2 linked regions of the Homo sapiens genome follow. The protein of the gene in region 1 purifies or fractionates together with the protein of each later gene. This does not show direct contact. Each region holds a gene or a part of one and is shown on either strand. Other genes may lie near its edges. The genes, in order: HCLS1 and MAP4K1.

Region 1 (3,823 bases):
AATTCAGTGAATAATTCAAATGGTCCTATGCATCCCTTATCCATTCTGTAAAGGAACTGCCTGGTTTTCAAGAACTATCACCCTTCTCTCCACCTTCTTTTCTCCACTCTTGCCCATTCATTCTCAAGACTCAAGGGTGTCTTTTCCCTTGACCTGTTTGTTTATTTTCAAATCTGTCACAGACTGATACTTTTGTAAAATAAAATACAATTAAGTTTCTGGAAAAATAAATGGTTAAAAATAACATAGACAATACAAACACAGTTTTTATTTTTAAATTCAACAGATATAAAATCACGATGTTGTCAGGCATGCTAGTCTGTGCCTATAGACCCAACTACTCAGGAGGCTGAGGCAGGAGGATCACTTGAGTCCAGTAGTTCTGGGCTATAGTGCTCTATGCTGATTGGGTCTCCACGCTGAATTCTGAATCAATATAGTGACCTCCCACCTCCCAGGAGCAGGGGACCATAGGTTGCCTAAGAAGGGGTGAACTTGCCCAGGTCAGAAATGGAGCAGGTCAAAACTCCAGTGCTGATCAGTAGTGGGATTGTGTCTGTGAGTAGCCACTGTACTCCAGCCTGGGCAACAGTGAGACCCCATTTCTAAAAAAGAAAAAGAAAAAGAATAAAATCACTATGTCAAATTGCTATAAAAGTTTCTAAACACATATTCTCAATTTTTATTCTTATTTCCCTGTGAAACAGAAACAGTTCAGCTTGTGGACCACACACTGAGTGGCACTGCTCTGGAATAATCTTTCAGCACTTCCTGGAACCAGTCTGGCCTTTAGATTAAATCTTTACTGAGCTATAACCATAGGATGTCTGCCTCAGTGGCCCTGTCCTCTTCTCGTGCCCTGACATTTTATAGCAAGTGGAAATAAAGAATGGTGTAATGCCAAGAGTATAGAAATAGAATTCTGGAGCTCTAGGGACTGATTCCAGCTCTGCTGTAAAAAGGCTTATGATGCTGAGGAGAGTAATAATATTTTACCATCCTATCTTGATTTCCAGCGCTGACTGGAGATTATAGTACCATCCCTGTTTACCTCACAGGGGTACTGGGAAGAGCCATGGCTATAACTTAAGAATAATGACTAACATTTATTAAGCTATTATATGTCTTGCAAAACACAGAGTACTTTTTAAAAACAATCCTATATCATAGATGACGTTGGCATCCTGATTTCACAGAAAAGTGAATGGATATATTAATGTTTAGCAATTTGTCCGAGGATACAGAGATACAGGTTGAGCATCCCTAATCCAAAAATTCAAAATCTAAAATGTTCCAAAATCTGAAATTTTTGAAAGCCCACATGATACCACAAGTAGAAAATTCCACACCTGACTACATGTGATGGGTCTCAGTCAAAATACAGGTGCACAACAGTTTTTTCAGCGTCCCCAAGGGAAAAATAAAGTTACCTTCATTTATTTAGTTCTTCTTTAATACCTTCCTTAATATAGTGTATATGACACATAAATGAATTTCCTGTTTACACATGGGTCTCGTCCCCAAGATATCTCATTATGTATATGCAAATATTCCAAAACCTGAAAAAATCCTGAATCCAAAACACTTCTGGTCCCAAGCGTTTGGGATGAGGGATAGTCAACCTGTAGTAATTTGAATTCGGCTCAGTCTGACTCCATGGGCTGAAATCTTAACCAATATATTGTTTTTGTCTAATAAACATAATATCGTCATGTCCGTAATTCTTTTGTTGAAATGAAATGCAAATTCCCATGAACTAAGCTATTGCCAATTCCCTAAGGCTGCTTGCTATTCTGTTTACAGTGACAAAGTACTTGATAAGTTGGCCTTAATAATACTACAATCACTTCATAAACAAACCTCTTTATGAGTGCCCAAAGTCTCTTTCATTTAAGGTTTTCTTCACTTTATTATTTTTCAAAAATTAACTTTGTTTTTTTTGAGACGGAGTTTCGCTCTGTCATCCAGGCTGGAGTGCAGTGGTACGATCTCGGCTCACTGAAACCTCCGCCTCTGCCTCCCAGCTTCAAGTGATTCTCCTACCTCAGCTTCCCGAGTAGCTGGGATTACAGGCATGTGCCACCTTGCCCAGCTAATTTGTGTATTTTTAGTAGAGACGGGGTTTAACCATGTTGGCCAGACTGGTCTTGAACTCCTGACCTCAAGTGATCCGCCTGCCTCGGCCTCCTACAGTGCTGGGATTACAGGTGTAAGCCACCATTGCCCAGGCAAAAATTAAATTTATTGATACCTAATCATTATAAGCAAATAGTTCAATGAGTTTTGACTATATATATATAATATAACCACCAATGCAATCAAGATATAGAATATATCTATTACCATGAAAATTTCCCTGCACCTCTTTGCAGTCAATACACCCCATACTGATCTTTTTGTCACTATAGATTAGTTTTGTCTGGCATAGAATTTCATGCAAACAGAATAATATAGAATGTATTGTTTTGTGTTGTCTTCTTTCAGCATAATGTTTTCCAGATTTATCCATGGTGTTGTGTATATAAGTCTTTTGTTCTTTTATATTGTCATGTAGTGTCCCATTGTATGGATATGTCACAGTTTTATTATTCATTATCCTGTCAATAGCCATTTGGATTATTGACAATTTGGATCTATTACAAATGAAACTGTCATGGGCATTTGGGTACAAATCTTTTTGTTGACATATCCTTATTTCTCTTGGAAAATTGCCAGGAGTAGAATTGCTGAGTCATATAATAAGTGTATGTTAAACATTTTGAGAGACTCTCAAACTCTTTTCCAAAGGGAATTTACCCTCTTTCATTCCTACCAGTAATGTGTGGGTTTCAGATGCTCCACATTTTTGTCAACATTTGTTATTGTTAGTATTTTTAAATTTAGCTGGGTGCAGTGGCTCATGCCTGTAATCCCAGCACTTTAGGAGGCCAAGGCAGGAGGATGACTTGAGCCCAGGAGTTCAAGACCATCTGGACAATGTGGAGAGATTCAGAGTCTACAAAAAAATTAAAAATTGGCTGGCTGTGGTCTGAGCTATTCAGGAGGCTGAGGCAGGAGAAGCACTTGAGCCCAGGGGGTTGAGGCTGCAGTGAGCCATGTTTGCCCCACTGCACTCCAGCCTGGGTGACAGACTGAGATCCTCTCTAAAAGACAAACAAAACAAAACAACAACAACAACAACAAAACCAACTTAACCACTCTTTTAAGTTAATTTGAATTTCTCTGATGACCAGTTTTATTGAGTATATTTTCATTTGCCATTCATATATCTTCATATATCTTCTTTATGAAGTATCTGTTCACATCTTTTTCTCACTTTTAAAGTGAGTTGTTTGTCTTTTTATTAAGTTGCTGAAAGTTCTTTATATATTCTGGATGTAAGTCTTTTGTGAAATATGTGTTTTACAAGTGTATTCTCCCAGAACATAACTTGCTTTTTCACTTTATTGATTGATTGATTGATTATTTATTGATTGATTGCTCTGTTGCCCAGGCTGGAGTGCAGTGACATGATCTCAGCTCACTGCAACCTCTGCCTCCTGGGTTCAAGCGATTCTGCTGCTTCAGCCTCCTGAGTAGCTGGGACTCAGGCGCCCACCACCAAGCCCAGCTAATTTTTGTATTTTTGGTAGAGACGGGGTTTCACCATAGTGGCTAGGCTGGTCTTGAGCTCCTGACCTTGTGATCCACCCGCCTTGACCTCCCAAAGTGCTGAGATTACAGGCGTGAGCCACCACACCTGGCCACTTTTTCATTTTATTAATGGCATCTTTTTAAGAGCAAAAGATCTTAATCCTGATGATGTCTAATTTATTGAAAAAAA
Region 2 (3,730 bases), on another chromosome or scaffold:
AGTGAGCCGAGATTACGCCACTGCACTCCAGCCTGGGTGACAGAGCGAGACTCTGTCTCAGAAAACAACAACAACAACAACAAAAAATTTCACCCGTTGTCCTAGTGACGCCCGTGATTATATATATATATATATATATATATATATATATATATATATATTTTTTTTTTTTTTTTTTTTTTCTGGTCCAAGATCATAGGTGGCACTTAGGAGCCATGTTTCTTTATAATTAAGCCGGAAAAAATAATTAAAACTTCTTTTGTCTTAAAGGAGCTTTGACCTTTTTAAAAATTAAAGGAAATTTGTTTTCTAAAATGTCCCTTAACTGTGTTTGAGGTTTCCACGTTCTGAATTTTGGGCAGGAATACTGCAGAAAGATGTCTTTCTCAGTGCATCATTTCAGGAAGTACACAATGCTAGTTTGTCCCATTACTGGTGATATTAACTTCGGTCATTTGGTTAAGGTAGAATCAGCCAGTTCTCTCCACTGTGAAGTTGCTTTTTTCTCCCTTTTTCTTTTTTTTTAAAGATAGATTCTCTCTCTGTCACCCTGGCTGGAGTGCAGTGACGCGATCATGGCTCACTGCAGCCTCGACCTCCTGGGTTCAATCAGTCCTCCCACCTCAACCTCCCGGGTAGCTGGGATGACAGGCGCGTACCACTACACCTGGCTTATTTTCGTATTTTTTGTACAGACAGGGTTTCGCCATGTTACTTAGCCTGGTCTGGAACTCCTGGACTCAAGAGATTCACCTGTGTAGGCTTCCCAAAGTGCTGGGCTTATAGGCAGGGGTCACCGCACCCAGCCTCTGTTTTTCTTTGTAATAAGAAGTATCCCACCGGTCGGGCGCGGTGGCTCACGCCTGTAATCCCAGCACTTTGGGAGGCCGAGGCAGGTGGATCACCTGAGGTCGGGAGTTTGAGACCAGCCTGACCAATGTGGAGAAACCCTGTCTCTACTAAAAATACAAAATTAGCCGGGCATGGTGTTGCATGCCTGTAATCCCAGCTACTCGGGAGGCTGAGGCAGGAGAAGCGCTTGAACCCGGGAGGCGGAGGTTGCAGTGAGCCGAGATCGCGCCATTGCACTCCAGCCTGGGCAACAAGAGTGAACTCTGTCTCAAAAAAAAAAAAAGAAGTATCTTTTGGGGAGATTCACTGAGACGAGGTAAATAGTCTGTAAATACGTTGTTTCTCATCAGATTTTCACCCACTAGTTTTATTGTTTTTTGTTTGTCTTTTGTTGTTGTTTTGAGTCAGAGTCTCACTCTGTCCCCCAGGCTGGAGTGCAGTGGCACGATCTCGCCTCACTGCAACCTCCTCCTCCCAGGTTCAAGCAATTCTCCTGCCTCAGCCTCCCGAGTAGCTGGGATTACAGGTTTGAGCCAACGCACCTGGCCTGCCCACTAGTTTTAGAATCAATTGATTTTTCCCTGAATCTATTATTGTTAGGTGGCTACTAACAATAAATGGTGATTTTCTGATTCTATGTTTCCTTCTGCGTGTGTTAGTTGGCATTCTACTCTAAAGAAGAGCTGTGTCTTCTCCATTCTTCTTTCTTTATACCAGCATGGTCTCATGGATTTTTATTCTGTGGGTTATAGTCTATTACTGTCATTATTTATTTATTTATTTATGAGATGGAGTCTCGCTCTGTCACCCAGGCTGGAGTGCAGTGGTGTGATCTCAGCTCACTGCAACCTCTGCCTCCCAGGTTCAATCGATCCTCCTGCCTCAGCCTCCCGAATAGCTGGGATTACAGGCGTGCACCACCATGCCTGGATAAATTTTTTTTTTTTTTTTTGAGACAGAGGCTCGCTCTGTCGCCCAGGCTGGAGTGCACTGGCGCTATCTCGGCTCACTGCAAGCTCTGGCTCCCAGGTTCACGCCATTCTCCTGCCTCAGCCTCCCGAGTAGCTGGGACTATAGTGCCTGCCACCACACCTGGCTAATTTTTTTTTGTATTTTTAGTAGAGATGGGGTTTCACCGTGTTAGCCAGGATGGACCTGGATAATTTTTGTAGTTTTAGTAGAGATGGGATTCACCATATTGGCCAGGCTGGTCTTGAACTCCTGACCTCAAGTGATCTGCCCCCCTTGGCCTCCCAAAGTGCTGGGATTACAAGCATGAGCCACCATGCCCGGCCTTGTCATTATTTATTTTGAGGCACAAATGGTCTTAAATTTAGCCAGTGGGAACCACTTTAAGTAGCCCCTGTGTCCTTTTGACATGCCAGAAGGGTCACTTTAAATCCAAATCTGATCGTGTCACTGTCTCCCTGCTTAAAATCCTCCCATGGCCTCAAGATAAAGACTCAATCCTGGCCACAGCCCACAAGGCCATGACATCTCCAGCCAAGTCCCAGCCTTTCTCCCACCTCAAATCCTTTGCACAGGCTGTTCTCCCCAGCCAGAACACTCTTCCTTGCCCTTTCACCAAGTTCCCTCCTAACCCCCCTTCAGGCTGCACCATCCATTCTCTGGGGAGTCTGGGCTGACCTCCTGGGTTAGGTTTCCCTGCCAGACATGCCATGCTTTTTTGCACTCATGTAATTCACTGATTCATGTTGATCTCCTTCTCTAGAATGCAAGCTTCCTAAGGGCAGGGACCGTGTCTGCCCATTCACTGCTATAGTTCAGCATGGGGCTGGCACAGTCTCTATTAACTACTTTGTGAATTAATGAATCAATGAACATATGAATGAATAAATGAACTGACTTATCTCTTCCTTCCACAGGCCTGTAGTGGTGGAGACACGCCCAGTGGATGATCCTACTGCTCCCAGCAACCTCTACATCCAGGAATGAGTCCCTAGGGGGGTGTCAGGAACTAGTCCTTGCACCCCCTCCCCCATAGACACACTAGTGGTCATGGCATGTCCTCATCTCCCAATAAACATGACTTTAGCCTCTGCTGTCATCTTGTTTTTCTTGGGGGAAACAATTCCTGGATGTCCACTCCTCCAAAATTTCAGCAGGCCAACACAGTGATGCTGGGGGGCGTAGCACAGATTTATTTTCCAGTACTAGGTCACCTCTCCCCCAGCTGCCTTAGGGGGAGGGGCTTGGGGACTAAGGGGCTTGCTGTGAGAATAAGGCACTTGAGGTGGGGGTGGAGGGCCAGCTGGGGGTGTGTCAGCTAAGCTGGTCCTCATACTGCTTACGGAAACAATCACCAGCTGGGAAGAAATCCCAACATCTCTCTTGGTACATCTTCCAGACATAAGACTCCTAGGATTGGGGATAGAAAGAGTTCATTGGTCACATCTTCAAACCCTTGAGACATATATATATATATATTTTTAGACAGGGTGTTGCTCTGTTGCCCAGGCTGGAGTGCAGTGGCGACAATCACAGCTCACTACAGCCTCCTGGCTCAAGCGATTCTCCACCTCAGTCTCCAGAGTAGCTGGGACTACAGGTGCACACCACCACCCCTGGCTAATTTTTTAATAGAGAAAGGGTCTCGCTGTGTTCCTAGGCTGTCTTGAACTTCTGGTCTCAAGCAATTCTCCCGCTGTGGCCTCCCGAAGTGCTAGGATTGCAGGCGTGAGCCAGGACGCCCAGCCCAAACCCATTTTTTTTGAGATGGAGTATCGCTCTGTCACCTAGGCTGGAGTACAGTGGCATGATCTTGGCTCACTGCAACTTCTGCCTCCTGGGTTCAAGCGATTCTCCCACCTCAGCTTTCCAAGTAGCTGGGATTACAGGCATGCACAACCACGCCCTG

The links.
Region 2: the proteins of HCLS1 (region 1) and MAP4K1 purify together in Homo sapiens (affinity purification with western blotting, with the first as the bait; one study listed by BioGRID). This does not show direct contact.

The regions. Positions count from the first base shown.
Region 1 is NC_000003.12:121,650,778-121,654,600, reverse strand, and holds part of HCLS1 (hematopoietic lineage cell-specific protein), read left to right. Parts: intron 1-3,823. UniProt on the Homo sapiens protein: Substrate of the antigen receptor-coupled tyrosine kinase. Plays a role in antigen receptor signaling for both clonal expansion and deletion in lymphoid cells. May also be involved in the regulation of gene expression.
Region 2 is NC_000019.10:38,586,826-38,590,555, reverse strand, and holds the end of MAP4K1 (mitogen-activated protein kinase kinase kinase kinase 1), read left to right. Parts: intron 1-1,280; coding exon of another isoform or gene 1,281-1,378; intron 1,379-2,738; coding exon 2,739-2,808; 3' UTR 2,809-2,915; downstream 2,916-3,730. Other genes in the region: RYR1 (ryanodine receptor 1), read right to left, coding at 3,136-3,231. UniProt on the Homo sapiens protein: Serine/threonine-protein kinase, which plays a role in the response to environmental stress. Appears to act upstream of the JUN N-terminal pathway.